3 separate regions of the Homo sapiens genome follow, and regions 2 and 3 are each reported to be linked to region 1. The links are microRNA targets in miRTarBase. Many come from high-throughput screens and were not tested one by one. Region 1 holds a microRNA gene; each other region holds the end of a gene's coding sequence.

Region 1 (9,844 bases):
CCCTGCCAGCCCCGCCCGCCAGCTCCCCTTCCCTTCCCTTCCCCTCGCCTCTCCAGCCCATGTGCGGGCAGAGCCGGCCCCGGGCCGCTGACCCCGCCGTGAACCCGGCGCGGAGCCGCGGCCCGGTGGTCCTGAGTCCGAAAGGGACGACACCCGGAGCCCTGAACGCCAGCCGCCAGCCGCGATGGGGCACCCGCGCCAGAAGATGCACCCGAGGCGGCCGACGCACGAGGACCGGGCTGTCCCGGGTCCCCCGTCCCTCCCGGTCCCCGGCTCGAGGACCCACCTGGGGGGCATGTCGAAAGCCCCGGGCCCGGCTGACGGCGGATCCAGGGGGGACGTGGCTGCGCTGCCCTCCGCCCGCCGGGCCCCCGGTCGGTCTGTCCTGCTGGTCCGTCCTCCCCGCGTCCTGGTCGCGTCTCAGCCCCGCCGCGCTTTCCGCACACTCTTATCTGGAGCGGCCCGGGCCGGCGGGCGCTGCTGCGGCTATGGCGCCACCTCGCGGGCGCGCAGGGCTCTGCGCGGCAGGCCGCTGCCTTCCTCCCGCGCACCTGAGCTGGAGGCGCACAGATGCTGAGCCCGCGGGGAGGGGCCCACCCTACCCGCAGGTTCGCCCTCCCACCTGTACCCACCTGGGACCCCGACCCCGGACACGCGAGTCCCAGAAACCCTGGGGCTTTGAGCTGAGCGCTCCCATGTACGTATTTCTAGGCACACAGCCCCAGTTCGGAAAAGTCCTGCCCGCGAGCACGGGACTCGGGTGGTGGGGGAGAGGTTATCCTGCGCAGGAGTAGCCGAGCTCTCCTGGAACTCCCCGTAGACATTACTGTACGGCACTGTCCACTTGGACGCACTCCCCAACACACCCACCCTCACTCAGGCGCATGGATTCGGTGTGCGCGGCATAAACTGATTTGTCCCCAGCCCTATCCAGGCACTGATACTAACAGGCGCTCATGTTTCCAGAAGCACACCCGCCCCTTCCCGCAGCCCTAGCGCTCTGGGATACTCCAGGGGCAGCCACGTAGGGCCCTCCGGGAACCTGGGCAGAGGTGTTACCCACACAGCCCGCCCTGAACTTTCGGGTCTCCTAAAGGAACCCACGACGAGTCATCAGGGCGACTGGAAGTGGCTGGACAGCGCCTCCGGGGGGTCCAAAGAAGTAACCATGGGGCCCTAGAATCCCCCTGTACGCCGTTTTGAAGAATCCCGCGTGGACTTCTTCTCCAACCCACCCGCCCGAAGGAAACAACAGGGGCGCCTGCGGCTGGGACCCCGCAAGGTCCCGCGCCCCACGTGAAGGTCAGGTTTGTGTGGGTGACGTCTCTTCTGGGAGAAAGGGGACCCCGCACTGTCGCGCCGCTGCTCGCAGTACTACTCCGGAAGTGGCCCCGTGCAGCCCCGCCGCGCACCAAGCCTCCTGCGAACGCCGGATCTCCGCGGCCCACGCTCCGCCTCCGCCCCGCACCTCCTGACCCCCGCCCACACACGGCGTGGAGCGGGGGGGGGGGGGGTCCCCGAGAACTCCGCCGCTTCCGATTGGCTGCGCCTCCCTCCACCGCGGAGCGCGAGGGGCTGGGGCGCTGCGTTACCATGGCAACCGGTGAGGTGCGCCCAGATCCTGTCCCTCCGAGGCCTTGGAGAGCTTAGCAACCGCGCTCGCCGCCCCCCGCGCTGTCCTCTGGCCCCCATGGCCCCGCCAGAGGTACCGGCTGAGTCACCGGGCGAGGGGCAGCGGGCGCGGCTACCAGCGGCCCCCGAGCGACACCAAGGTCTCGGGCGCCCCCCGGAGGCTCCCTTTGCTGCGCAGGCGACTTCACGGCTTCGGTGCCTGGCGGAGGCTTCGGTCCAAACGAGTCCGCCTGATTCCCGCCGCTGCCTGAGTCCGCCCCATGTTCTGGATCCATCTTACCCACTCCCTCTCCCATGTCTCCCCATAGCATCCTCACTTTAGAAGCAGTGAGGTCCCAAAGAGGAAAACGGAGGCCTCCGGAGCTGCCGGTCTCTAGGGAAGGCGGACCCCGACATCTCGCCCGAGGGACGTGCTGCGGCCTGAGGTGGAAGTTACGGAGTGTTGAGGGGAGGTGGAGAGGCTCCTCATAAGTGCTCCTAGAGCTGGGCTTTGACGGATGAATAGGAGTTCTTCTACCGAGCAGGAAGGCATTTGTGAATAACAGAATCCCTGGAACAAAGGCTAGCGGCAAGAAAACTGGAGCTCTAGTAGGCCAAATCCAGACTATGCAGGGCCTCTCTGACCCCATCTCTTTTATCTTTTCTCTTTTTGATAGAGTCAGATCCCCCACCCCCGACTTCCAAAGAGCCCCTCCGCCCCATGTATCTTGTGCAGTGGAGTCTGTGCATTGCTAACCTGCCCCAGGGGTCTGCTGTGCCCACAGTCTTTATTCTTCAGCGTTCCCCCACATCCGCTCCCCAAGTTAACTTACTGCCCCTAACCCCATCCTCAAGCCCTCATTGCTTCTGTAAGGGAGGGTCTCACAGCCCTGCCCCAGCCCAGGCCCCTAACCCCATCCTCAAGCCCTCATTGCTTCTGTAAGGGAGGGTCTCACAGCCCTGCCCCAGCCCAGGCCCCTAACCCCATCCTCAAGCCCTCATTGCTTCTGTAAGGGAGGGTCTCACAGCCCTGCCCCAGCCCAGGCCCCTAACCCCATCCTCAAGCCCTCATTGCTTCTGTAAGGGAGGGTCTCACAGCCCTGCCCCAGCCCAGGCCCCTAACCCCCTCCTCAAGCCCTCATTGCTTCTGTAAGGGAGGGTCTCACAGCCCTGCCCCAGCCCAGGCCCCTAACCCCCTCCTCAAGCCCTCATTGCTTCTGTAAGGGAGGGTCTCACAGCCCTGCCCCAGCCCAGGCCCCTAACCCCCTCCTCAAGCCCTCATTGCTTCTGTAAGGGAGGGTCTCACAGCCCTGCCCCAGCCCAGGCCCCTAACCCCATCCTCAAGCCCTCATTGCTTCTGTAAGGGAGGGTCTCACAGCCCTGCCCCAGCCCAGGCCCCTAACCCCCTCCTCAAGCCCTCATTGCTTCTGTAAGGGAGGGTCTCACAGCCCTGCCCCAGCCCAGGCCCCTAACCCCCTCCTCAAGCCCTCATTGCTTCTGTAAGGGAGGGTCTCACAGCCCTGCCCCAGCCCAGGCAGGGTGAGGACCGCCTTGCCCTCCTGTGCACTTCACTCTTCGACCTTTCTCTCCCTGCCCCGCTCTTCCGGCCATGCCTTGCACAGCCCTCCCCATCCTGGTCCAGCTCCTCGTCTGAACACACTCCTCTCATTTAGACCCTTCCTCCATCTCGATGGAGCCAGGCTGGGCCAGGACCATGCATTTCCCCGCTCCCAACCAGGGGAACTGCCCCACAAGTCATGGGCTCTCCCTGCCAATTCTGGTCTCCGGGAACATTAACTTCTCCAGGAAACCGTCCTCCTCATCCCCTGGGGGCCCCTCTTGGCCAAGCTGCTGGTCTCCTTCACTCTCTATTACCCTAACGTGAGCTCTGGGAGCGTCCATCGTGCCACAAATGGTCCGAAGGTGGGTCCTGGATGCCAGGCTCTGGAGCGTGGCACTGACAGCCTTTCCTCTCTCCCTTGCTGAGGCTGCCCATTCCTCTCACCCCTACCTCTGGCGCGTTCCCCCAGCTCCCTCATAGAGGATCCCGTTGCTCATCATTTCTGGGGAGGTTGGCCCACCTTCCCCAACTTCTCTGCCGTCCCTCGGGTCTCCAGCTCCTGGGTGGTACCTGAATCCCCGCTGGGCCTTCCCTCCCAGGCCCAGGTTCCTCCGCTAAAGACTCCTGGGCTACTTTGGGCTCCCCTACTCTTCTTCTCCCGGCCCCCGACGCCACAGCCCTCGCTGCGCCCCAGGCCCCCACGGGAGTCCAGCTTCCTCTCCTGCCCACCCTGCAGGACGAGAGGGTGGCGACACCGCAGTGGCCTTGCGGGGTGTGACGGCAGAAACGTCAGGTCCAGGAACTGAGGAGGGGGAAGGGGCTGCCACGTGAAGACCCCCAGGAGCCGCGGGGCTCCGGAAGGAGAGCGTGAATAAGCTCGAAGGGCCCGCCGCGCCCCTCCGCGCCGCCTCCCCGGCCCCAGGCCCGCGGTTCCGGAAAGTTAACCCCTTGTCGGCTGGGCAGGGGCGCGGCTCCCCCTACCCCGCCGCCGCTTCCGCGCCCCCTCCTCCCCTCCCGGTCGCCTCGGTCCCCACCCCCCGCCTCGCCACTATAAATAGCCCCTTTTCCCATTTCCTAAATTCCCCGCTGACGTCGGCAGCGCGTCAGTGTGTAGGAGCCGCGGCCGCATGAATGAGCCGCCGCACGAGTACTACGCGCGCCTATAAAAGCCGCCGCGCCGGCCAGGCTGCGGGAGGCGACCGGGCAGTGGCGACGCGGCCCGCCAGGTAAGCGGGACGGACCAGCCGCGGAGGGACAGATGTGCGGACACGGACGGGAGGACGAGGAGGGGACGGGCAGGCGGCGGGTGGGGCGGCCCCTCCGGGGTGGGGATGGGGGCGGACGGGGGGCACCGGGGTCCCCTCGCGGCTGCGGAGCCGGGGCCAGAGACGACACGAGCCCGCGCAGCACCTGCCGGCGCCCGATGGACACGCAGCTACTTCGGAGGAGCATCGAGTGGAGGACCGACCTCGGAGACCCCCCCCCGGCTTTCTTGGGGCTCCTGCGCCATTCTCCCAGGAAAGTGAGGCGAAGGTGCTGGCGCCCCAGGAGACGCGCCCCCTCCTCTCCCTCCCTGCGGCGCGGTGACTCAGCCTCGCTGCCCGGGCCGGCTGAGCGGGGGTGCAGGCGAGAGACGGACGCCCACCCCCGCTTCCCCGGCCCTCCTGGGACCCCCGCCCCGCATGGCGTCGGGCGCCCCTTCCCGGCAGGTCCCGTCCAGCGGGTCCCGCGGCGCCCACGGCTTCCCGCCTCTGCGAGCGGAGCTGTCCTCTCAGGACCGGGGGGGCGGGGCCTCCCAGGTCCCGCCCCGCCCCCACGCCCCCGCCGGAAGTGCCCCCTCTGGGACATCTTTGACGTCACGGCCCTCTGACGTCAGGGGCCGCGTGCCTGGTCGCGAGCGCCGGGCGGGGCAGGGCGGGAGACGCAGGGGAGGCGGAGCAGCAGAGCCCCCAGCCGGGGCAGCCGGGGCGACCGGGGCACCCCGCCCGGACAGCGCGCCGGCACCTTGGCTCTAGACTGCTTACTGCCCGGGCCGCCCTCAGTAACAGTCTCCAGTCACGGCCACCGACGCCTGGCCCCGCCCCAGGACCGCGGCCCCGGCCGCCGCCGCCGCGCCCGGGGACCCCCAGTCCCCGTCCCTCAGGGCCCCGCCCCCGGCCCGCTGCCTGCGCCGCCGCTGTCCGCGGTGCTGATCAACGCAGGCGCCGCCATCGGGCCGCCCCGTCCGGGTCCCTAGGGGCTGCGAGGGGCGGTGGCCCACGCGCGCTCCTCAGCCCCCGCCGCCCCGCCCGCCCCCCCGCGGCCCTGACGTCAGCCCGCCCCGCGCCGGCGCCGTCCGCGCGCCCCGCCCCCGCGTCTCCAGGGCAACCGTGGCTTTCGATTGTTACTGTGGGAACTGGAGGTAACAGTCTACAGCCATGGTCGCCCCGCAGCACGCCCACGCGCCGCGCCACGCCGCGCCCCGAGCCGCGGGCTGGGGACGCGGAGCAGAAGGAGGCGGGGGCGGCGAGTCAAGATCCCACGTGCCCGCGCGGGTGGCAGGAGGTGCTGCGCAGGGAGGCGGCCTCCCGGGGCCGGCGGCTGAGTCCACCGAGGCTCGAGCGCGCGCGTCCTGCGGAGTGCGTCTGGCGGCCAGCCTGAGGCCGTCCTGTCCTCCCGGCCAAGGTATCCCAGCCAGGGCTCGGCGAGAGAAGGGGTCGGGCTGGGACTCGGGTTCTTTCGATTTCGGTGAGAGGGAAGCCACTGGGACCAGGAGGCTTGGAAGGAGGTTTGTCTCCTGGGGCCTGAAGACAGTAGAGGGAGGAAAGTTTTCTGAGATACTCCACAGCCCCGTTCTTCCAGGAACCCCTAGCTGAAGTGGGCATTGGGCGAAGAGTAAACTCTTGAATCTTTCCCTCTGAGCTAGGAGGATAAGAAGGGTCCCCAACCCTCTGGAAGCCAATGAGCTTGTAAAGTTAACCTGGTCCGCGAAGCGTCTGAACAGATCAGCCTGCTCACCTCAGCCTATCTCTAGGTGCTGGATTCCAATCTGAGACAGTTTCTCAAATTAGCCCTAAAGAGGAGTGAATACCACAGGGGCTGAAGTCCTCTGGTGCGGATGAAGTGTGAACAAGGATCTCTAAAAATATTATTGTATATGTCGCCTGCCTCTGCCAACATCACCCACTACAGGGGATGTCTATTGAATATCAGGTGTGAGACTTCCCCAGAGATAGTGTTGGGAATGGTTAATGCAACCCAGCCCACGACACGTTAATCCAATTTTTCTTAACGTCTCACGCCCCACCCCCTCCTTCACTCCCCACCCGGCTCCTTTGTGAAGTACTTCTAAGACACTCGTGCCGGTTTCCCAGTTAATCAACACCCACATGCTAGCCATCCCACCTCCCCAGGGCCCCGAGGTCTTGCAGATTAAAACGCACTTGCTTCTGGGTTCCAGGGGATGTCAGTGGGTGGACTGCAGTGGACTGCTGGGTGTAGTGCTCTGGGAAGCCAGAGGTCCAACCTGGCATTATCAGCAACTGGTGGTTAAGGGGCCATATTCTGTTTCTGAGCTTTCTGTAAAACGGGATAATAATCTCTTCTCCTCGGCAGGTGCACTGTGAGGATTAAATAGGATCATGTAAGTAAAAATCCAAAAACAGCAGAATGTTATTTTGATCTTAAGTATTCTGTTAGGCTACTACATGTTTGTGAAGGGGTGGTGTTGGGAGGGGACCCCAGCTCTGTGCACTTAGGCAGAATGAACGGGATGTGGGGGGTACACCTTGAGCTTTAGGCTATATATATTTATTGTCTAATATATATATAATCTATATTATATATATGTTATACATACATATACTTTTATTTTTTTTCTTCTGAGACAGTCTCGCTCTGTCGCCCAGGCTGGAGTGCAGTGGCACTATCTCGGCTCACTGCAACCTCCGCCTCCCGGGTTCACTCTGGGCCTGGGGCTGTTGAGAGGTTCCTTGCTAAGGGGGTTCTCTCTCCTAAGAGCTCTAGGAATCCAAGGTGGAATCAGAGGTGGAAAACAGAAATGGTTGGGATATTCTGAGAAGAGGTCAGAATGTGGTCAGAGGGGAAAGAACCAGAGGATTGACCGTACGTCAGGGTTGTTTAGCATCTTAGAAATCATTTAGGGCAGGGCACAGTGGCTCACGCCTGTAATCCCAGCACTTTGGGAGGCATAGGTGGGAGGATCTCTTGAGCCCAGGAGTTCGAGACCAGCCTGGGCAATACAATGCGACTCCCATCTCTACAAAAAAGAAAGAAAGGAAAGAAGAAAGGAAAGAAAAGAAAGAAAATTAGTTGTGCACACCTGTAGTCCCAGCTACTTGGGAAGTTGAGGTGGGAGGATTGCTTGAGGCTGGGAGGTTGAGGCTGCAGTGAGCTGTGATTGCACCACTGTACTCCAGCCTGGATGACAGAGTGAGACCCTGTCTCAAAAAAAAAAAATCATTATTTAGGGCTGGGAGACATGGCTCATGCCTGTAATCACACCATTTTGCGGGGCGGGGCAGAGGCTGGAGGACTGCTTGAGCCCAGAAATTCGAGACCAGCCTGGGCAACATAGTGAGACCCCATGTCTTAAAAAAAAAAAAGCCAGTGTGATAGGTGGCACCTGTAGTCTCAGCTAAGCTACTCAGGAGGCTGAAGCGGGAGGGTCACTTGAGCCGAAGAGGTCGAGGCTGCAGTGAGCCATGATCCTGCACCTGGTGACAGAGGTAGACCCTGTCTTAATAATAATCCAGCCTGGCCAATATGGTCAGACTCCGTCTCTACTAATAACACAAAAAATTAGCCAGCCATGGTGGTGCTTGCCAGTAATTCCAGCTGCTTGGGAGGCTGAGGCACTAGAATCACTTGAACCCAGGAGACGGAGGTGCAGTGAGCCGTGATCGTGCCACTGAACTCCAGCCTGGGTGGCTGAGTGACACTCCGTCTCAAATAATAATAATAATAATGGTACCTACCTCATGAAGTTGTGAGATTAAACATGAAGTTGTAAGGTTTAAGCTATATATATTTATTGCCTAATATATATAAAATATATATGTGTTATATATATATAATTTTATTTGTTTTTTTCTTCTGAGATGGAGTCTTGCTCTGTTGCCCAGGCTGAAGTGCAGTAGCATGATCTCGGCTCACTGCAACGTCCGCCTCCCAGGTTCAAGCAATTCTCCTGTCTCAGCCTCCTGAGTAGTTAGGACTACAGGTGTGTGCCACCACCCCCAGCCAATTTTTGTAGTTTGTTTTTTTTTCTTTTTTTTTGGAGACAGGGTCTAGCTCTGTCTCCCAGGCTGGAATACAGTGGCACAATCACAGCTTACTGCAGCCTCAAAACTCCTGGGCTCAAGTGATCCTCCCACCTGAGCCTCCCGAGTAGCTGGGACCACAGGTGCATGCCACCACACCCAGCTAACTTTTAAATTATTTGTAGAGAGGGGGTCTCACTATGTTTCCCAGGCTGGTTCTGAACTCCTGGGCTCAATTGATCCTCATGCCTTAGCCTCCCAAAGTGCTGGGATTATAGGCATGAGCAATCGCACCTGGCCCTAAATTAGGCCGCATTAAAGCTCTTGCTTATTACAATGTCTGGTATACAGTTATTACTCAATAAATGCTCTTCTGGCCGGGTGCAGTGGCTCACACCTGTAATCCCAACACTTTGGGAGGCTGAGGTGGGCGAATCACTTGAGATCAGGAGTTCAAGACCAGCCTGGCCAACATGGCGAAACCCTGTCTCTACTGAAAATGCAAAAATTAGCTGGGAGTGGTGATGCACACCTGTAATCCCAGCTACTCTGGAGGCTGAGGCAGGCGGATCGCTCGAACTCAGGAGGCGGAGGTCGCAGAGAGCGGAGACTGTACCACTGCACTCCAGCCTGGGTGACAGAGCGAGACTCCGTCTCAAATAAGTAAGTAAATAAATAAATGCTATTCCTATTTCTATCCTTCAGACCTAATTTTCCTTTGCTATAAATTGAAAATGTTTAAGCAGTGATTGTTCTGGGGAGCTTGCTCCCCTCCCTGGTGGGTTGCAAGAGAGTCACACTAGGGGTTTTTCAGATAACACACCCTCACCCGAGGCTTTCATTCAACCCCTAAGGCAGTGGCTTTTCAAATCCCTGCTTGGGAATGATGGGGGCAATTTGCCAAAATGCAGATTCCTGGGTCCCAGTGATTCTGACTCAGTACATCTGGAGTTGGCCCCAGAATTCAAGTTGGTTTTTTGAGATGGAGTCTCACTCTGTCACCCAGGCTGGAGTGCAGTGGCACAATTTCGGCTCACTGCAACCTCCGCCTCCTGGGTTCAAGCAATTCTCCTGCCTCAGCCTACCAAGTAGCTAGGATTACAGGTGCATGCCACCACGCCCAGCTACTTTTTTTTTTTTTTTTTTTTGAGACAGTTTCGCTCTCGTTGCCCAGGTTGGAGTGCAATAGCGTGATCTCGGCTTACCGCAACCTTTGCCTCCCAGGTTCAAGCAATTCTCCTGCTTCAGCCTTCCAAGTAGCTGGGATTACAGGCATGCGCCACCATGGTTGGCTAATTTTGTATTTTTAGTAGAGACAGAGTTTCTCTCTGTTGGTCTGGCTGGCCTCAAATTCCCAACCTCAGGTGATCTGCCCGCCTCCGCCTCCCAAAGTGCTGGGATTACAGGCATG
Region 2 (9,844 bases), not on the chromosome of region 1:
CTATCTGATGCCAAACAGACCTTCAGCAGAATTGTCATTGTTTACGTTTGCCTCCTTGGAATGACACCATTTTGTTTCTCCAGCAATCCAAAGATGCACTCTCATCTCCACATTTAATTTCCAAACATAGCTACATGCTTCTTTCAGAAACAAGGTCTGAGCCAGTTTACATGTGTAAATTGGGTTTCCATTCTTTATATCATGTTCCAACTCCATAACTCAACCTGAGCATTCTTCTTTTTTTTTTTTTTTTTATGTAAATCAGGGATGGTCTTTGATCTCTAGAGGGAATTTAGGTTTTCCTGGCCTTTTGAATGGTATGCTAGGCATTGGTTTGCATTGGTTTGGAACAGGCTCAAAGACAGAATCACAGATTTGCATTCTTAAAACCCCCTGCCAACGACTGGGCTGTTTTATTGTCCCGAGCCAAGAAAAGCCTGATTCACAAGCATTCGGCCTGTGTGTTATAATAAATATGCTTAGAAAAGCCCCCATCCGTCACTCTTAAGCCCTCCTGGTTCCTTCAAGGCCAGTGTGTGAAAAAATAGTCAAGACTGAAAGTGAATGAGTTGAACTTACATTCCTTACGGGTGGATGGTTATAGAAAAGGGAGCTGGGCTTCCCAAGAACCACAGCAGCATGACTCACAGTCATTGCTGCCTCTCCTGGGAATTATTCGACCCATCTAGGTAAAAGCAAGGTAACTTATTTTTGCCGCGTTGTTTACGCATCGGTTTCTAGTGTTGACTTTGCAAAGCACAGAGTTCTCAGTGTGTTATCCTTATGTGTTATTCCAGATCCCAACTGCTCCGCCAAGTCACACAGGAAGACACCTTTGGTGAAAGACTTTAAGTTCCAGAGAATCAGAATTTCTCTTACCGATTTGCCTCCCTGGCTGTGTCTTTCTTGAGGGAGAAATCGGTAACAGTTGCCGAACCAGGCCGCCTCACAGCCAGGAAATTTGGAAATCCTAGCCAAGGGGATTTCGTGTAAATGTGAACACTGACGAACTGAAAAGCTAACACCGACTGCCCGCCCCTCCCCTGCCACACACACAGACACGTAATACCAGACCAACCTCAATCCCCGCAAACTAAAGCAAAGCTAATTGCAAATAGTATTAGGCTCACTGGAAAATGTGGCTGGGAAGACTGTTTCATCCTCTGGGGGTAGAACAGAACCAAATTCACAGCTGGTGGGCCAGACTGGTGTTGGTTGGAGGTGGGGGGCTCCCACTCTTATCACCTCTCCCCAGCAAGTGCTGGACCCCAGGTAGCCTCTTGGAGATGACCGTTGCGTTGAGGACAAATGGGGACTTTGCCACCGGCTTGCCTGGTGGTTTGCACATTTCAGGGGGGTCAGGAGAGTTAAGGAGGTTGTGGGTGGGATTCCAAGGTGAGGCCCAACTGAATCGTGGGGTGAGCTTTATAGCCAGTAGAGGTGGAGGGACCCTGGCATGTGCCAAAGAAGAGGCCCTCTGGGTGATGAAGTGACCATCACATTTGGAAAGTGATCAACCACTGTTCCTTCTATGGGGCTCTTGCTCTAGTGTCTATGGTGAGAACACAGGCCCCGCCCCTTCCCTTGTAGAGCCATAGAAATATTCTGGCTTGGGGCAGCAGTCCCTTCTTCCCTTGATCATCTCGCCCTGTTCCTACACTTACGGGTGTATCTCCAAATCCTCTCCCAATTTTATTCCCTTATTCATTTCAAGAGCTCCAATGGGGTCTCCAGCTGAAAGCCCCTCCGGGAGGCAGGTTGGAAGGCAGGCACCACGGCAGGTTTTCCGCGATGATGTCACCTAGCAGGGCTTCAGGGGTTCCCACTAGGATGCAGAGATGACCTCTCGCTGCCTCACAAGCAGTGACACCTCGGGTCCTTTCCGTTGCTATGGTGAAAATTCCTGGATGGAATGGATCACATGAGGGTTTCTTGTTGCTTTTGGAGGGTGTGGGGGATATTTTGTTTTGGTTTTTCTGCAGGTTCCATGAAAACAGCCCTTTTCCAAGCCCATTGTTTCTGTCATGGTTTCCATCTGTCCTGAGCAAGTCATTCCTTTGTTATTTAGCATTTCGAACATCTCGGCCATTCAAAGCCCCCATGTTCTCTGCACTGTTTGGCCAGCATAACCTCTAGCATCGATTCAAAGCAGAGTTTTAACCTGACGGCATGGAATGTATAAATGAGGGTGGGTCCTTCTGCAGATACTCTAATCACTACATTGCTTTTTCTATAAAACTACCCATAAGCCTTTAACCTTTAAAGAAAAATGAAAAAGGTTAGTGTTTGGGGGCCGGGGGAGGACTGACCGCTTCATAAGCCAGTACGTCTGAGCTGAGTATGTTTCAATAAACCTTTTGATATTTCTCAAGGCCCTAGTCTCTGCTGTCTCCCCTCCCCACCCCATCCTTGCAAAGCACTGGGGAAAGTAAGGCCAATCTGGCCCTCCCTGTGTGACCCGCCTTCGAGTTTTCCTTAACAGTTAGTACATTTCCTTGTGTTACCACGCATGGGGAAGAAAACGCATGGCCCCAGAATGCCACCCCCACCTGACCTCCCCGGAAGCACCCCGCCTCTGCCCAGAGCATGTGCTTGCTTCTAGAGAATCCCGTTCCAGTCATTGCGTGGACAGAAAACGTAAGAGTCCTGGGGAGGGGTGGGAGGGAATGAAGCTAGGACCTGGGGTGGGGGTGGGGGCGGTTGCATGCGGACCCGGTATTCTGAAAAGAAAGAAATCTTCAAACACCTCGGTCCTGTCCGGTGAAAAAACGACAGCATTACACATTCTCGTGCCAGGAAATGGTTACTCACCCCCGCTCTCTGGAGTCCTTTGGAGCTTTCTGATACCATTCACACGATGGAGCAATTCACACGTTCGTTTTCTAAGTTCTTTATTGTCCAAGCATATAAGGTGAGCACAGCACAAATGGCTGCCATGGAAAGTCGTGCTTCCCCAGCATAAGAACAGAGCCATCTTTGAGCCATGGGAAGCCTCATTTAATGAGACCTTTTTCCCCCCTTTTAAATCTGATATGTTATCGCACTTAGGGTTTTGTTTTATTTTGGCTTTTAAGGTTGAGAGTGGGCTGAACGCCTTCATAATGGGGGCGGAGGCGGGAGTGAGAGGAGAAGGGAGAGAGCTGTTCTTTTTCTAATGACTACACCTGAAAAGTATCAAGAGACATCTTTGCCAAGAGACTGTAGCAGCCAGCTGCCCCCCGTGGAGCAAGGTTTAAAGACAAAATTAAATGGCACCTCTGTTTAAGATCTGCGTGTGTAAACAAGACTCGTTTGGGGAAAACGACCCGGGAGGAGAGCATCTGTGATCAAAATCTCTCATTGTAAGCACAAATTGTTCCGTGTCTGGTTATTAAAATCGCTTTGGGTCTATAACAGCCACTCTTGTCCCCCCTTTTAATAGAAAATTGTCATTCTAGCCTGGATTTCTCCCCACTGGAGGTGGAGGGTGGGAAGAGAAGGGAGTCAGCTCTGACAGCTTACAAACTGGGAAGTTCTGTGCATCTCCAGGGATTCCAGAGTTGAAGATCTGGTTGTTGGAAGCTGGGCGCCCAGTGCTTTTTTTTTTTTTTTTTTTTAGCCCAGATGCCGTCAGGACCCACTGAACAAGGGTGAACTCGGGTGGTGGTCTCGGTTGGCCAAGGCTGAGTTGAACGCCTCAGGCCAAACCCCAAGTTGAAAGGGAGCATTGTGGCTTTTATAATCCAATGATGCAATGATGATACCAGCTTACAGGAGTTCTCAGCAGGTGCTTTTTATTAACTGATGAAGAGCTAAGGCTCACTTTTGATAGATAATATATATTTATTAAATGCATTAATGTGTGTTTTATAATGTACCTTTATCTTCCCCCGGCTGACTGTTGCATACTTATAAAAAAGAAGTTAAAGAAATTTCAAGACAATCAATATGTACCATAAACGACTATATAAATATTACAAATTTAAAAGGCTGTAAACCATGGGCAGATAGGTTTTATTTTCAAAATGCTGTTCTTAACACAAAAATAAAGGCTTTACTATTTACTTAAGACGTGTGGTAGCTTGTCAAAACAACCCAGTGCAACTAACTACTAGGCTTTCGGATCTGCCTTGAGGGTCGGTCTGTGGCATTTTAAATGGGAGAATCTTGGTTAACAGCAAACCACAGAACATATTAAGGTAATAAGTTTACCCATAAAAGCAGGAACTTTCTATATAATACTTTGGGACTTAGACAACAAAAATCCTTTGTTACATCTGTCTGGGTTTAAGTGTCTCATCTTGTTGGGTTTGCAGTAAAAGTTAAGGAGTGGTCTCCTTTGGAAATGATCATTAAGTATAAGGTCTTTTTTATAAAGAGAGTAGTCAGTCACTAGGTAAACTTAAAACCAAATTCAGAGGTTGGGGACTTAAATTAGAATATGGATCTTTGCAAAGGCGGCCACAAGTGGGAAAACTGGTAATAAGAGCACTTCTGTATTCCTTGGGACTAGAGTTCATTGTACATTTTAACAGCAGCTGGTGTAGAAGAATACTCCTGAGGCACTGAAGAAGTAATCTGGATGAATGAATAAAATGTGGGGATAATGCAGAAAGTGAAGACTGGTCCTTTCTTTTCTAAACTATTTGCATTAAAGCTTGTTTGCAATGAATCCTATCTTGTACAGAAAAGATTCCATTTGCACATGTTCCAAGTCTTGTTAAAGAAATCACAAGAGAGAGAGCATCATTTGGACATTTTCCTTGCACAAGGTAACTTGTGCTCGAATGGGCAAAGATACGTCTTAGCTATGGTTAAGATGATGGAATTTTCATCTTGGCTGCAGGTACTGCATCGTCCTCCATTTTGCATTTCACTGCAAAGAAAAGAAAGGGAAAGTCAGGATCAATTTACATACGTAGACAGGCTTGTCATTGGGAAACCGGAAACTCTGATGTGTGGACAAGGTCAGTTGCACCAAAACCCACTGTGCGCCTGCTATTCATGGTTCCGGCCCCATGGATCCACGGGGAAGAACACAGGCCCATTGTGCTCTAAGGACAGCACCTGAAAGTTCAAAACCACTTCCCGGACTGTTCATGGCCATTCTTAATTCAGTTCAGAAAGAGGTCAGAAGTGTGCTTTGCCGGTCAGGGTACTGAAGGAAGGCAATTTTACTAAAGACGATGACAGATTCCAGGCTCTCCGCTCAACCCCATCTGTCACCACACACCCTGTTCTCCAGCCACCCAAAATGGAAAACTCAGGGTATCACTGGGGGCAATGCAAAGGTCTGAAGAAAATCTTTTCTCTTATGTCATGGTCTGGACCAAGAACCTGATCTCGGTGATTTCCTGTGTCTGCCAAACAGGAAAGTTAGCTCCATACAGGGTATGGCTCTGTGTGTAAGGGGAATTAATCCCAACAGATAAAAGCCTCTCCCCAATTAAATATGGAAACCCAGTCCCTTGGTGGGTGCAGTAGGGATCCTTTTGGAAAGACCCTCTCTTTTAATATATCTTTGTCTGGAGTGTCCAAGTGCTGCTTGCCCATATGTGAATGTCTTGAAAGGTGGTTTGAGCCAGGCCACAGGTTCTGATGATTTGTGGAGAGCATTGTTCTGGTAAAAAGGGTGTTTGAGCTTGTTACTATGTAGGGCTGAGGTTTCAAGTGAACCTGCCCTCGTCCTGACCTCCCAGCAACTAAGGGCATGCACCAGCCAGATGCGGCAAAGAGGTGGGTATGTACACCATCCCATGAAATGCACTTTTTTGTTTTTTTGGGGACAGAGTCTCTCTTGTCCAGGCTGGAGTGCAGTGGCAAGATCTCGGCACACTGCAACCTCCGCCTCGCAGGTTCAAGCGATTCTCCTGCCTCAGCATCCCAAGTAGCTACAGGCGTGCACCACCACGCCCTGCTACTTTTTGTATTTTTAGTAGAGATGGGTTTCCCAATGTTGCCCAGGCTGGTCTCGAACTCCCAGCCTCAAGTGATCCACCCGCCTCAGCCTCCCAAAGTGCTGGGGTTACAGGTGTGAGCCACTGCGCCTGGCCCTGTGGTTATTTTCTGATGGAGGTGGGATGAGGGCCTTCAGCAACACAGACCAGCCCTGCAGTCTTCAAACTGAGGGCAAGGGTTCTTGGTCATGGTTCATTCAAAGGAAATCAATTTCCAGATCATCAGCTTCCCACCCTCCTGTCATTCCTGGCCCAGTGTGTAAAGACTCCCCAGGTGCCAAACAAGAAGGCAGTTCAAAATGAGGGCCCTCAGAGTCTCCTTATTTTCTATGTTTGACAACTATCAAATTGTATCATGTATTTATTTGGTTTTGCGTACTACTAATCATTGTATTAGCAACACAAATCAGAAAAAAATATTTTTAATACTTGGAGCCTGTGGTCACAGGACATTTTAAAACATTTTTTCAAGGTATATACCTTTTTTATTCCATTTATATGGAAGCTCTATGGGCAACCACAGTGAAAACCCTATGTGCTTCTAGACCCTACTAACGATGACATTGACTCTTCATAGTCAAGGATGCGCCACACCTCCCTAAAGACTGTCCCACTAGCTGTGATTAACAGCTCCCCAGGGATTGGGGGAGAGTCCCGAGTTGTATCATTTGCCATTTCCATAGCCTATTGGAAGCCAGCAGCCTGACAACGTAACAGAGTTGGGAAGAGGTGCGCACAGTCAGATGGAGCGGGGCTGCCCTGGATCCCCCCAGGGAGGTACACAGGTCAACTAGTGCAGCCAGCATCAGGCATAACTTCAGACCTGCAGGCTGGCTCTCTAGGGACAAATTGGGGACATCTGCAATAGGGGGAAATTGTTAGAAATGCAAATTCAGGGCCCTTTTCCAGGCAGACAGAACCAGACACTGGGGGTGGAGCCCATCCATCTGCATTTTAACAAGGCCTCCAGGTGATTCTGATGGATCAGGCTGGGTCTCTAGGGACAAGTTGGGGACATTTGCAATAGGGGGAAATTGTTAGAAATGCAAATTCAGGGCCCTTTTCCAGGCAGAGAGAACCAGACACTGGGGGTGGAGCCCACCCATCTACAGTTTAACAAGGCCTCCAGGTGATTCTGATGGATGCTAGTTAAAGTTTGAGAACCACTGATTACTGGTTTTCTACCCTGGCTGCTTGTAAGAATCACATGGTCAGCTTCTGAAATTTATTGGTGCCTGGGTTTCACTCCAGCAATTCTGATGTAACTACCCTGGGGCCTGGGCATCAGTAGCTAGGTAAAGCTCCTGTGTGTTGCTAAGGTTCAGCCAGGGTTGAGACACAGATGGGGCTTAGAATCCCTTTAAAGAAACGTGACTGTAGGACCCTGAAGAGTCTAGAATTCCCCTCAACTTATTAACATCATGCTGGCTGCCTGTGAGTCTCACAGTTTAAGCTGCTAGAGAGAGAGTTGGCAGACAGGCTGGGCACAGTGGCTCACGCCTATAATCCCAGCACTCTGGGAGGCCGAGGCACGTGGGTCACTTGAGGTCAGGGGTTCGAGACCAGCCTGGCCAACATGGTGAAACCCTGTCTACTAAAATTACAAAAATTAGCTGGGCGTGGTGGCAGGCGCCTGTTAATCCCAGCTACTTGGGAGCCTGAGGCAGGAGAATCGCTTGAAGGGAGGCAGAGGGTGCAGTGAGCCAAGATCGTGTTACTGCACTCCAGCCTGGGTGGCAGAGCAAGACTGTCTCAAAAAAAGAAAAAGAGAGAGAGAGATAGCTGGCAGACAGACAGATGCTGGAGGCAATTAATAGCTGGAGGGAAGGACTGGCTTCTGGGAGAATTCCCCAGCCCTTGGGTTTTCTTTAGTTTTCTTCAACTGCCTGAAGGAAGAATTCACCTGCAAGCTGTTGTCCTGGTATTTTACCCAATTCCTGTCCATACCTTGACAACCTTGTTGCCTACTCCCTACGTGTTGACCTTGCTTGGGAAAAAGCCCCTTAGTATCTCTTTAGATCATCACTCAGAAATCTTGACAGAGGAGAGCAGAAAGGAATGAGCTAGGGACCTTGTTCATGGGGGAGGACCGAGAGGTGTTATCTCGAGTTGACGGGCTGGAAATCAAGGTGTGACGTGGAGCCTCCCAGTGGAATTACCTGGGGATTTCTGAACACCCTACACAATTAGGTCACCATCTCTGGAGGCACAACTACACTGGAAAACTGCTTGGCGTTACCAAATGGAACTGAGTCTGACAGTGAATACAAATGATTCCACTCCCGTATCCCACTGCAGAAACCCTTCCATACGTGTACTGGGAGGATGCTCGTGATAGCAAAACCTGGACACAACCCAAATGTCCATCAGCAGTTGACTGGATAAACCAATTGTGGTCTACTTGACCAGTGATTATACAACACTGAACATGAGTGAGCCGAAGCCACACGCATCAACTTGGATTAGCTCAAAAATGTTGAAGGAGGCCGCGTGCGGTGGCTCACGCCTGTAATCCCAGCACATTGGGAGGCTGAGGCGGGCAGATCACGAGATCAGGAGATCAAGACCATCCTGGCTAACACGGTGAAACCCCGTCTCTACTAAAAACACAAAAAATTAGCCGGGCATGGTGGCGGGCACCTGTAGTCCCAGCTACTCGGGAGGCTGAGGCAGGAGAATGGCGTGAACCCAGGAGGCGGAGCTTGCAGTAAGCCAAGATCGCGTCACTGCACTCCAGCCTGGGCGACAGGGCGAGACTCCATCTCAAAAAAAAAAAAAAAAAAAAAGTTGAAGGAAAGATGAGAGGCACGGAATAATACATATAGTGTGATTCTATTTATAGCAAATCTAAATGCTGAGAGATGCATACAAACGTGAAAAGAGCTCCAAAGAAAAGCAAGAGAACAGCTATCATGATAGTCAGAGAAGTGGCTTCATGGGGGAAGAGCTTTAAAACTGTTGACAGTGTTCTGTTTGTTTGTTTGTTTGTTTGTTTGTTAAATGTTGTAGAGAGGTCTCGCTTTGTTGCCCAGGCTGGAGTGCAGTGGTGCGATCATAGCTCCCTGCAGCCTCTGGAGGCTTGTGGAGGCTCAAGCGATCCTCCACAAATGTTTTTATTTATTGTTATATGTGTTTTATAGCCACTGTTGTACGCATATTTCACCCCCCAAAAGGTAAAAAGAAATAGGTATGTTCGTGTATTGCTTGAAATTACAAAGCCAACCAATAAAGGCATGGAAAAGAATGATTTAGCTGTTTTGAGGAGGGGAGGGATGGAATCTAAGCTAACCCTCACCTATCATGGCAGGAAATCAGTAGATCCTATTGAAAATCTTATTACCATAGAGACCTGTTCCAGATACAGAAGTAACACCCCGAGGAGCAGCTGAAGTTCAAAGTCATTGCCTCTGGGGATGCACTACTTTGCTAAAAATTAAGCAAGAGATAAAATCTCGACTTGGTGGTCTTCCTCCTCCTGGTCTTAGCAGAACACAGCCTTGCACAGGTAGGTACTTGATCAGCGGAGGGAGGAAAAGGGGAGGGAAGCAGGGGTGAGAGGCAGGAGAGAAGAAGTAAGCCAGGATGCTGTAGAATGCAGCTTCCACCTTAGCTCGGAGACATCATCGTGGTTGGCTTCCAACACCAACAGACAGATGCCTCGGCACCCCTATGCTGTCCTTGTCCCTCTCAGCAGGCTGGTGCCCAGCCAGTTCCGGAAGGGCTGGGAGAGTGGAAAATCCCAGAGAGAGATACGCCAGCCCTTCAGCTTCAATTAAAGGCAATGTGACAAGAAGGGCCTTGCATACTAATAAGACTCAGTACATCTTCTCCTCGTGGTCGCCCTTATCCTCTCCTGTTCCTGTGAGTGACAGGACTGAGAATTCAATTCACAGCCCAGAGAAAAACCT
Region 3 (9,844 bases), not on the chromosome of region 1:
CGAAATTTCTGATTTCATAATGTTTACTTTCTAGTGTATGTTGCAGGTACTGTGGAGCAGACAGTAATTAAATGGGAAAAATCAAACAGTGATCTGTACAGGATTTTGTGCTAGAGTGTGCCCACGATGCTACTTAAGAATGGATAGTCAGGTCAGGTGAGTCTGAGGAGACAACAGGTGAGCTAACACCTGAATGAGCAGTCAGGGCTGGGTGTGGTGGCTCACACCTGTAATCCCAGCACTTTGGGAGGCTGAGGTGGGAGGATCACTTGAGGCCAGGAGTTTGAGACCAGCTTGGGCAACATGGGGAGACTCTATCTCTACAAATTTTTTTTTAAACATTAGCTGGGCATGGTGATGCATGCCTATTGTCCCAGCTATTTGGGGGGCTGAGGTGAGTGGATCACTTGAGCCCAGGAGTTTGAGGTTGCAGTGAGTTACGATGGCACCACTGTACTCCAGCCTGGGCGATACAGTGAGACTTAAGAATAAAAAAAAGAAAAAAGAAAAAAAAGCCCAGGCCCAGTGGCTCACACCTGTAATCCCAGCACTTTGAGAGGCTGAGGTGGGTGGATTGACTGAGGTCAGGAGTTCAAGACCAGCCTGGCCAACATGGTGAAACCCCATCTCTACTAAAAATACAAAAATTAGGCAGGTATGGTAGCGGGTGCCTGTAATTCCAGCTACTTGAGAGGCTGAGGCAGGTGAATCACTTGAACCCCAGGAGGTAGAGGTTGCAGTGAGCTGAGATCGCCCACCGCACTCCAGCTCTGAGCAACAGAGCAAGACCCTATCTCAGAAAAAAGTAGTAATAATAAGAAGAAAAAAGAAAAGAAAAAGGGTCAGCTCTGCAAAGATCCGGAGGCAGGGAGAAAATTCCAAGCAGAGGGCTGGCAGATGCAAGTCCCATAAGATGGAACAAGCTTGCATGACACATGAGAGCCGGATAGAAAGGCCAGATGGGGAGTAATAGCTGGGAAAAGAGCAGGAATGGAGTAGGCAGGGCCAGATCAAGTAGGTGGGAATAATGAATGGATTATATGGAGGCAGGATGGGAGCCTGGAGACCAGTTAGCTGGCTGTTGTTGCAATCCAGATGGAAGACGGTGGTGGCTTGGCTAAGGGTAGGGAAGTGAGGCTTAGGAATGACAACTGGAGAGAGGAAGGAGGGAACCAGGTTCTTGCTTAGAGGCATGATGACTCCAACTGTGGAGACTGACTGGCTCCAGAACTGGGCTGTGTTGCATCCGTATCTCATCCACGGGAGGTCCTACAGCTGTGCTGGTCTCTCCCATCCAGCTGAGGCTCTTCTTTCTCCTTCTCAGGTATGGCTCCCATGGTGCATTTTACCGCTATAAGAACAGCATGGGCAAGAGCCTCCCACTCTTTTATATCTACGACTCATACCTGACGTCCCCTGAGGCCTGGGCCCACCTCCTGACACCAAACGGGCCCCATTCGATCCGCAACACGCCCTACGATGGGGTCTTCATAGCGCTGCTGGTGGAGGAGGGCCACACCCACGATATCCTGGCCGCCGGATTTGACGGCATGTACACCTACTTTGCCTCCAATGGTTTCTCCTTTGGTTCTTCCCATCAGAACTGGAAAGCTGTGAAGAACTTTTGTGATGCCAACAACCTCATGTTCATCCCCAGTGTGGGGCCTGGCTACATAGACACCAGCATTCGGCCCTGGAACAACCACAATACGCGCAACAGGGTCAATGGCAAGTACTATGAGACGGCCCTGCAGGCGGCCCTGACAGTGAGGCCCGAGATCGTTTCCATTACCTCCTTCAATGAGTGGCACGAGGGCACCCAGATTGAGAAGGCCATTCCCAAGAAGACACCCACCCGCCTGTATTTGGACTACCTGCCTCACCAGCCCAGCCTGTACCTGGAGCTGACACGCCGCTGGGCGGAGCACTTCATCAAAGAGAAGGAGCAGTGGCTCATGTGAGGGGCCTGTAAATGGGCGTGAGGTGCTGATGTCCTTGCCTTGCTGGAAGATGTCACCATGTGGGGTTCAGCTGAGGTTGTAGCCACTCACTCGTTCCCAGGTCAGAGGTCAGCAGATGGGTGTTTCTGGGTGGGCCGTCAGGCATGGGCCTGTGCAACACAGAGCCCGTTCCTCAGGCGAGTGGTGCTGAGGTGCTCTGTGGTGATGGGAACGGCAGAGGCTGGCAGGTGACTGAACTTAGCCCAGGGCAGCTCCACATCCTGGGAACACTTTCATGTAACCCCTTCTAGTTTTGAACTCTGCAGCAGGCTGGTGCTGTGTAGTGGCCACCCAGTCACCACCCTTGGAAGGGTGTCAGGGTCTGGGCTCGCATGCACCCTGCTCCCTTCTGCCAGCCTGCATCCTCTCCTCAGGCCTCCTTCCCACATCATCTGTCTTCTCTAAGTTAGGGAACCATATTTGAGACTTTCAAAAAGGGAACTTCTAGGTTTAAGCTCCTCCCAGTAGATTCCTGAACCCAATTATCAGGAAATCATCCTGAGCACTCACAGGTTCATTTAACACTCACTCATCAAGCACCTTCCTATGTGCTAGGTGCTGGGGAAAACTTGACCAAGGAAGAGTTCCTGTCCTGAAGCTTCCAGGACCCAGCTTTCCTTTTCTGGTGTGGCCTTGTAGCTAGTGCCTGGGCACAGGTGTTTTTCTTTTTGCAGTTTTACCTAGTGCTGGGAGTTCAGTTCTTTTTCCTCTAGAAAAATACCTCTGTGCTCCAGAGCCTAATTTTTCCCAGATGCATATTTAGCTCTAGGGAGAGGACTAGGAGGAAATCCCCCTCCCTTTAGCTGCCTGAACTGACTGAGGCCCACTCACTAGAGCCATGTTCAGTGCTACTGTGATTAGTAGTAATTAAATATGAACTGGTATTCTCAAGTAAGCATTCCTTTTGCTCTCTTTAAGACCTCACAGATTCTGACCTTAGATTCTGTGACAAACTGATACAGGAGCTGGGCTGGCTATGGCTTTACCACAACAAGTAGGTTTGCTTAAGAAATTACTAAACAATGGCTGGGCGTGGTGGCTCACTCCTGTAATCCCAGCACTTTGGGAGGCCGAGATGGGCGGATCACGAGGTCAGGAGATCGAGACCATCCTGGCTAACAGGGTGAAACCACGTCTCTACTAAAAATACAAAAAAATTAGCCAGGCGTAGTGGTGGGCGCCTGTAGTCCCAGCTACTTGGGAGGCTGAGGCAGGAGAATGGCGTGAACCCGGGAGGCGGAGCTTGCAGTGAGCCGAGATCACGCCACTGCACTCCAGCCTGGGCGACAGAGCGAGACTCCGTCTCAAAAAAAAAAAAGTTACTAAACAAGGCTGGGCGTGGTGGCTCACACCTGTAATCCCAGCACTTTGGGAGGCCAAGGAAGGTGGATCACCTGAGGTCAGGAGTTCGAGACCAGCCTGGCCAACATGGTGAAACCCCATCCCTACTAAAAATACAAAAATTAGCTGGGCGTGGGTGCCTGTAATCCCAGCTACTTCTGAGGCTGAGGCAGGAGAACCGCTTGAACCTGGGAGGCGGAGGTTGCAGTGAGCCAATGTGGCACCACTGGACTCCAGCCTGGGCAAGAGCAAGACTGTCTCAAAACAAAAACAACAAACAAACAAACAAAAAGAAAACACAAAAAACATTACTAAACAAGATTTCTAGAGGGAATTAACAAACCAGTGCTTATTTACCAATAAACTAATACGCTAATTGCAGGAACCCTGATTAAAGCAGGCCCCTGTTAACACAAGATTCTTAGGATATACTTGGAAACAGGTGCATTGGAAACCACTGTACTGAGAAGTTTATGGGCTCAAGACTGAATTGGAAGCTAGGCGTGGTCGCTCATGCCTGTAATCCCAGCACTCTGGGAGGCTGAGGTGGAAGGATGAGTTCAGGAGTTCGAGACCAGCCTGGGCAACACAGAGAGACGTGTCTTTAAAAAAGTAAAAAATGGGCTGAGTGCCTTGGCTCATGCCTGTAATCCCAGCACTTTGGGAAGCCAAGGCGGGTGGATCACTTCAGGCCAGGAGTTCAAGAACAGCCTGACCAACATGGCAAAACTCCATCTCTACTAAAAATACCAAAAAAATTAGCAGGGTGTGGTGGTGCACACCTGTAGTCCCAGCTACTCAGGAGGCTGATGTGTGAGAATCACTTGAACCTGGGAGGCGGAGTTTGCAGCGAGCCAAGATCGTGCCACTGCACTCCAGTGTGGGCAACAGAGATTCTGTCTCAAAAAAAAAAAAAAAAGACTGAATCAGAATTTTGGGAACTAGGGTACAAGAGGGAAGGGGAGGAAGGAGGAAATAGACCCCAGTGGTCACCTCAAGGACACCCAGCCCCAGTTAGGTAACTGATATTAAGCCCCACCAGAGAGATGAGCAGGCCTGGCCACCTGGCTTTGGGGCTTAGCTGGGGAAACCAAGGCAGGCAGGGACAGCTGAAAGGGTTGGATGTTGACCTGTAGTAATTTACAGAAGGTAGCAACACTGGCTTCATTTAACACACACACAATCTGAAAAATACTAAACATGGGAAGGCCAGGGGGCAGAGGCAGCCATTCTCACACACTGCTAACAGCAGTGTAACTTGACTCAGTTCTTTTGAAGGCTAATCCATACTGAGAGCCATAAATACTTCCTACACTTTGACCTACTCTCCTAAGGAAATAATTCAAAAGAAGAAAAACAAACCATTTACAAATATGTTTAATAGCAGCATTTCTTTAAAGAAAAACAAAGTTCAAATGCCCAATAATAATTATGTTTAACACTTGGTACACATATAAATAGACAAAAGGCTGCGGAGAACACTGGATTTAAATAAAGGTGTTATGGGTATAATTAACTATAATTTATTTTATGAATAAATAAGAAAAAAGTCCCTGGCTATAAAGGATAGTGGAGGTTTATTTCCCAATATTCTTCCATTTGGACTGAACCCCTGCCAACTAAGCAGACATCCCACTATTACACCAAAAAGACTGCTCTCCCTGCGAGCAATTACAATACATGACACCACTAGGCCCAATGGCTCAGAGGGAAGAGTGGCCTGTGGCTCTTCAATCTTTATCCAAACCTGGTTCTAGCTTCAGGAGCCTTTGGTCACCTGAGACTTTTTATTTATTAATTTTTATGAGACGGAGTATTGCTATGTTGCCCAGGCTGATTCTGAACTCCTGGGCTCAAGCAGTTCTCCCGCCTGGGCCTCCCAGAATGTTGGGATTACAGGCATGAGCCACCACACGCAGCCACCTGAGACTTTTTAAACAGCACCAGCACTTCTGGCTGGTTTGAACCTTAAATGCCACCACCCACCAGAGAGGAGGCTCTCACTAGATTCTAAATCTGTTATTTAATTACTTTTCAATTGAAAAACAAAACAGACAGAAGAAACTTATTAGAATAAGGCCACCTAGGAATGTTCTTAACTTTTCCATTCAGCTTTTGGCTGATATATGAAAATACAAATAAATACATCCTTTCCCCAGGTGCAAGGCTAAACCAGCAGCTCCAAGGGCTTGGTCTACAGTGCTCAGAAAGACACACTGCCTTAAAAGTCAGGCTAGTGCCCTAGCTCCGGTGGCCTCTGCAAATGAGGCCTTGACAGTCGTCAGTGGACAGACACATAGTATCCAGCACCAGGTCTTGGGCCTTCCTGCTTCCCAGAGTTTCACAGGTAGGACGCATGTGAGGGGAGCAGTCCGTACTTCTGTTGGAGGATGGCTGTAGTACTTTCCAGGGCACTGAGGAGGAAACAGGACAGTTACCAGTCTGACTTCTCAGAAGTCCCGAGCCCACCAGAGGCTGGTGAGCAGGGACATCGAAACTGGCTAGCCTTGTTAAGCCCTGTTCATCAACCCTTGATGAAACCTTTTGAATCCTAAGAAAGCCAGGAAACTTAGTCCCACTGCAACTACCACTTCTCCAAACCTGGCCCACACTCCTTCAGGGCAACATAGGAGGCACCATCTTTATCTTGTCAAAGCTTTTTTGCATCTCTCCAACCTCCCTCAAATTATTTCCCCACACCACAGGAAAGAGACTTACCAGCCTGGACGAATGATGCCAAACTTTCCGGGCACAGACAAATCAACCACAGTTGAGCCAAGGCGACACTCGGGGCTCTGGCCATCCCCAATTTGTCCCCCATCAATAACCAAGGACAACTGAGGCCAGAGATCCTGGAACTCCTGAGAAGAGGGAGAAGGAAGAGCATGGACACTATCCCTGGTGTATCCAATAATGTCAAACTGCACGCAGTCATCAAAGGCCATATAGTCTTAAAACAGAAGGCACTTTCCTCTAAGCAGAGAAAGGAGCTTCATTTAGTTAAGGTCAACTGTGCCAAAGACACTGTATTCTATGAGGTTTGGAGGCCTCCTGGGTTAGCACTCCAAGTAACACCTATCTAGGGTTTAAAGAAAATCTTGCTATGTCAAAAGGAAATTTCACACATTGCTTCAGTTAGGGAAATATAAGTACAATGAATGGAGTTCTGGGCAGAGATACGGGCTATAACTCTAGACTTTCCATCGTATCTCCGTGTGACTGCATGCAAGTTACTCTATCCAGGCCTACAAGACAAGTGGGCTGGACTAGATGATCCTATGTCCTCATTTCATTTGTTCTAATCTATGTAGCCAAGACAGGACTAGGATGATCTTTTCTTTGACCTGGCTTGCCGCAAAGATAAGAGAACAGGGTCAAGAGTCAAAAACTAGGTAAAAAGACCAGGCATGGTGGCTCACGCCTGTAATCTCAGCACTTTGGGAGGCTGGATCTCTTGAGGCCAGGAGTTTGAGACTAGCCTGGTCAACATAGTGAAACCCCATCTCTACTAAAAATACAAAAATTAGCCGGGCATGGTGGCACACGCCTGTAATCCCAGCTACTCACTCGGGAGGCTGAGGCAGGAGAACTGTTTGAACCCGGGAGATGGAGGTTGCAGTGAGCTGAGATGGTGCCACTGCACTCCAGCCTGGGCAAGAGAGTGAGACTGTCTCAAACAAAACAAAACAAAAAAAAACTAGGTAAAAATCTGGTCACTTAATGGCTGCGTAACCTGGAACAAGTGATTCCAGCTCCTTCTAGCTCTAGAACTATGCTCCTGGATCTCACTGCGACTCTGATCAGGGTAGGAAGAGTAGAACATGGTAGATTCTGCATGCCACCAGCACTCAGTCTTTGGGCTATGAGAAGGATACTCCCCCTAGAGCAGTGGACTGAATTGTTAACTGAGCTAGAGCTTCCCCAACCCCCCAAGGAAGACACTGCAGTGGCAGTTAGGCCTGGAAATCTGGGACAGGAAATCATAAATACCAGTTACTGTGTTGGACAGGTCAAATGATTGCTGACAAGGTAAAAACCTCCCCTCCCTGTGCCACATCCCGATTCTTGCTCCTGGGGTACAGCCACCAGGACCAAGTCAAACCTGCACTCTGAGAATGGGAAGGGATGCTGAACTCTCACTTTCTAAGAACCCTGAGCCCCACTCTAGGTCTGGGAATGGAAAACCCATCGAATGGAGTTCTGAGCAGGGATACGGGCTCTAACTCTGGACTTTCCATCGTATCTCTATGTGACTGCACGCAAGTTACTCTATCCAGGCTTATTAGCTGGATGTAATAAGCCCAAGGAAGGCCCAAGGCCTGATGCTGGATACTATGTGTGATACTATGTGTCTGGCCGAGTCTGGGGACACAATGTAGCTTATTACTACGTTTTACATCTTAGTAATAAGAAAAAAAACGAAATTTCTATGTGTCCTCCTTTGTTCTAATCTATGTAGCCAAGAAAGGATTAGGATGATCCTTTCTTTGATCTGGCTTGTGGCAGAGATAAGAGAACAGGGGCGAGAATCAAAAACTGGTTAAAAATCTGAGTCAGTCACTTAATGGCTGTGTGACCTGGAACAAGTGATTTAACTTTCTGGAGGCTAAACTTCATCTTTTTTTTTTTTTTTAAGAGACAGAGTCTCGCTCTAGAGCCCTGCCTGGAGTACAGTGGCACAATCTGAGCTCACTGTAACCTCTGCCTCCCAGGTTCAAGTGATTCTCCTGCCTCAGCCTCCCAAGTAGCTGGGATTACAGGCATGCGCCACCATGTCTGGCTAATCTTTGTATTTTTTATTAGAGATGGAGTTTTGCCATGTTAGCCAGGCTGGTCTCAAACTCCTGACCTCACATGATCCACCTGCTTGGGCCTCCCAAAGTGCTGGGGTCACAGGCATGAGCCACTGCCCTTGGCCTTCTTCATCTTTCTTTACAGCACTGTCGTGAAGATTTATAGCCTAACTGTGTTCTCCAGAAACTGTTATCTCCAGAAAAACAGGAAGACATTGTTCTTATAATCTTTCCTATTATTATAAAGACTGAAGAAAAGACCAATTCTCCCCCTGGCTTTTCAGACTTTGAGATAAAATCTTTCAAATTTTTTTAATTTATATTGCCCCCCACCACCTCCCTGCCAGCTGGGCAACCTTCCCACTGTTGGCCCAAGAACTCTCATGCCTGGCCATCCCAGTGTACTATCAATGCCACTGATTCACAGAAAACAGTATGTGCGCTGGTGACATTTCCAGGGGAAGGACTGGGTAAACTCACCTCGACATTCAGAGAACTGGCCTGGGAGCTGAGGTTGGCACTAGTGAGAGCAAGCGGACCCTCAAACATCTGAGCCAAGTCTTGCATAAAAGCATGATCAGGAATCCGAATGCCTACAAGCTGTAAGGCAAGGGGAAAGGGATCATGAGAAAGGTTGGAAGGGATAAGAGGGTAAGTCTTATCTGGATCCTAGTGAAAGCCAAGTGGCCTGGAGTCTGGGGACACAAGAGAAAACTTGACTCACAGGCGTAAAAGGGTTTAGGTCCTTGTTGAGCTCCTCCGAGCGTTCCATCACCAGGGTCACTGGTCCTGGCAGTAGGTCTTTCAGGAGCCCCTCAGGTACTCTCACACGGCAGTATCTGGGAAACACAGAAGAATAAATCCATTCAAAATTGAAGGGCCACTGGTGGTCCTTTCCTAGACTCTAGGCAGACGTAGAAAAGGAATCCTTCGAGTTTACAATGGGAGCCGCCTGTCTCCCTGCTTCACCTCCCTAAGAGCTTGAGCAGAAAGCAGGGCTCCAGAGGCGCACCCCTGGCTTGACGCCCATGTGCCTCTGGTCTCAGGGACTACAACAGCTGCACCGCTGTGATATCATGATAGTGGGATCAAGCTCCACGTTTTATTTTCTTCAAGGCATTCGCTATTAAATTAAGCTACTGTGTTTGTTTGCTTTTTTCCCGGGGGCCTCCCCAATTAGCACAAATACGCCAAGGGAACAGGGTCCCTGCCTTTCTCGTGTGTTGCTGCTTCCCAGCAGCATGTAGTTCAGGGCCCGGGGCACGTTAAGTCCTCGGTACATATTTCCAGTTCCGGATTCCTTGGTGAGCCTGGACAAGCCCCTCCCGCTCTCTGCGCCTCAGTCTCCCAAGCCTGTCACCGGAAACCCCTCCCGCGGTGCCGCCCCTAGCGGGGCCGGGTCGGGGCGGCCTTACCTGTAGACGTCGGCCACGCGGCCGAGGCATACGGCCAGAGGCTTGGCCTCGCTGCGACCCTTGAGGCGGTACACAGCGCGCAGAGCCGCCGAGCAGCTCGCCGCGCAGGCCAGGCCGTACAGCGTATCGGTGGGGACGGCCACCACGGCGCCGGCGCGCAGCTCGGCCACGGCGGCCCGCAGCGCCTCGGTCCAGCCGGCGCGCTCCGGGCTCGCGGCCTGCACGGCCCCGCTCCCCGGGAGCCGCAACAGCCGGGCGCCGGGGGCCGCCGGAGCGGGACTCGGCGGGCGGAAGA

The links. The annotated mature microRNA hsa-miR-212-5p reads ACCUUGGCUCUAGACUGCUUACU and lies in region 1 at 5,175-5,197, shown strand. An mRNA with a match to its seed (bases 2 to 7 or 8) in the 3' UTR can be bound and repressed. Matches are read on the target gene's strand: a 7mer-m8 pairs with bases 2 to 8, a 7mer-A1 pairs with bases 2 to 7 and ends in A, and an 8mer does both.
Region 2: miRTarBase lists GPRC5B as a target of hsa-miR-212-5p. Seed matches in the 3' UTR shown: 7mer-m8 at 974-980 and 7mer-m8 at 3,656-3,662.
Region 3: the mRNA of MANEAL is a reported target of hsa-miR-212-5p. Seed matches in the 3' UTR shown: 7mer-A1 at 2,574-2,580.

Annotation. Positions count from the first base shown.
Region 1 is chr17:2,045,681-2,055,524 of GRCh38, reverse strand. It overlaps MIR212 (microRNA 212), which reads left to right and starts at 5,145; the gene lies at 5,145-5,254. It overlaps MIR132 (microRNA 132), which reads left to right and starts at 5,517; the gene lies at 5,517-5,617. It overlaps LOC124903896 (a long non-coding RNA gene), which reads left to right and starts at 5,576. Exons shown (of 2, transcript XR_007065576.1): 1 at 5,576-6,364; 2 at 6,767-6,818. It overlaps HIC1 (HIC ZBTB transcriptional repressor 1), which reads right to left and starts at 422. Exons shown (of 2, transcript NM_006497.4): 1 at 287-422. RefSeq lists silencers at 139-638, 1,389-1,858, 4,862-5,011, 5,022-5,821 and an enhancer at 3,421-4,316.
Region 2 is chr16:19,851,498-19,861,341 of GRCh38, reverse strand. GPRC5B (G protein-coupled receptor class C group 5 member B) reads left to right here. Exons shown (of 4, transcript NM_016235.3): 4 at 798-4,651. The coding sequence ends at 842. It overlaps IQCK (IQ motif containing K), which reads right to left. Exons shown (of 9, transcript NM_153208.3): 9 at 2,875-4,855. The coding sequence ends at 4,794. Among named protein-coding and RNA genes, the nearest start is that of GPRC5B, 28 kb to the left of the region's middle. RefSeq lists enhancers at 102-683, 1,957-3,156, 6,307-7,226, 7,227-8,145.
Region 3 is chr1:37,798,243-37,808,086 of GRCh38, forward strand. MANEAL (mannosidase endo-alpha like) reads left to right here. Exons shown (of 4, transcript NM_001113482.2): 4 at 1,325-2,891. The coding sequence ends at 1,961. It overlaps YRDC (yrdC N6-threonylcarbamoyltransferase domain containing), which reads right to left. Exons shown (of 5, transcript NM_024640.4): 1 at 9,550-9,844; 2 at 8,859-8,973; 3 at 8,615-8,734; 4 at 6,060-6,202; 5 at 4,703-5,755. The coding sequence ends at 5,683. C1orf122 (chromosome 1 open reading frame 122) reads left to right here and starts at 9,548. Exons shown (of 3, transcript NM_198446.3): 1 at 9,548-9,844. RefSeq lists a silencer at 9,616-9,844.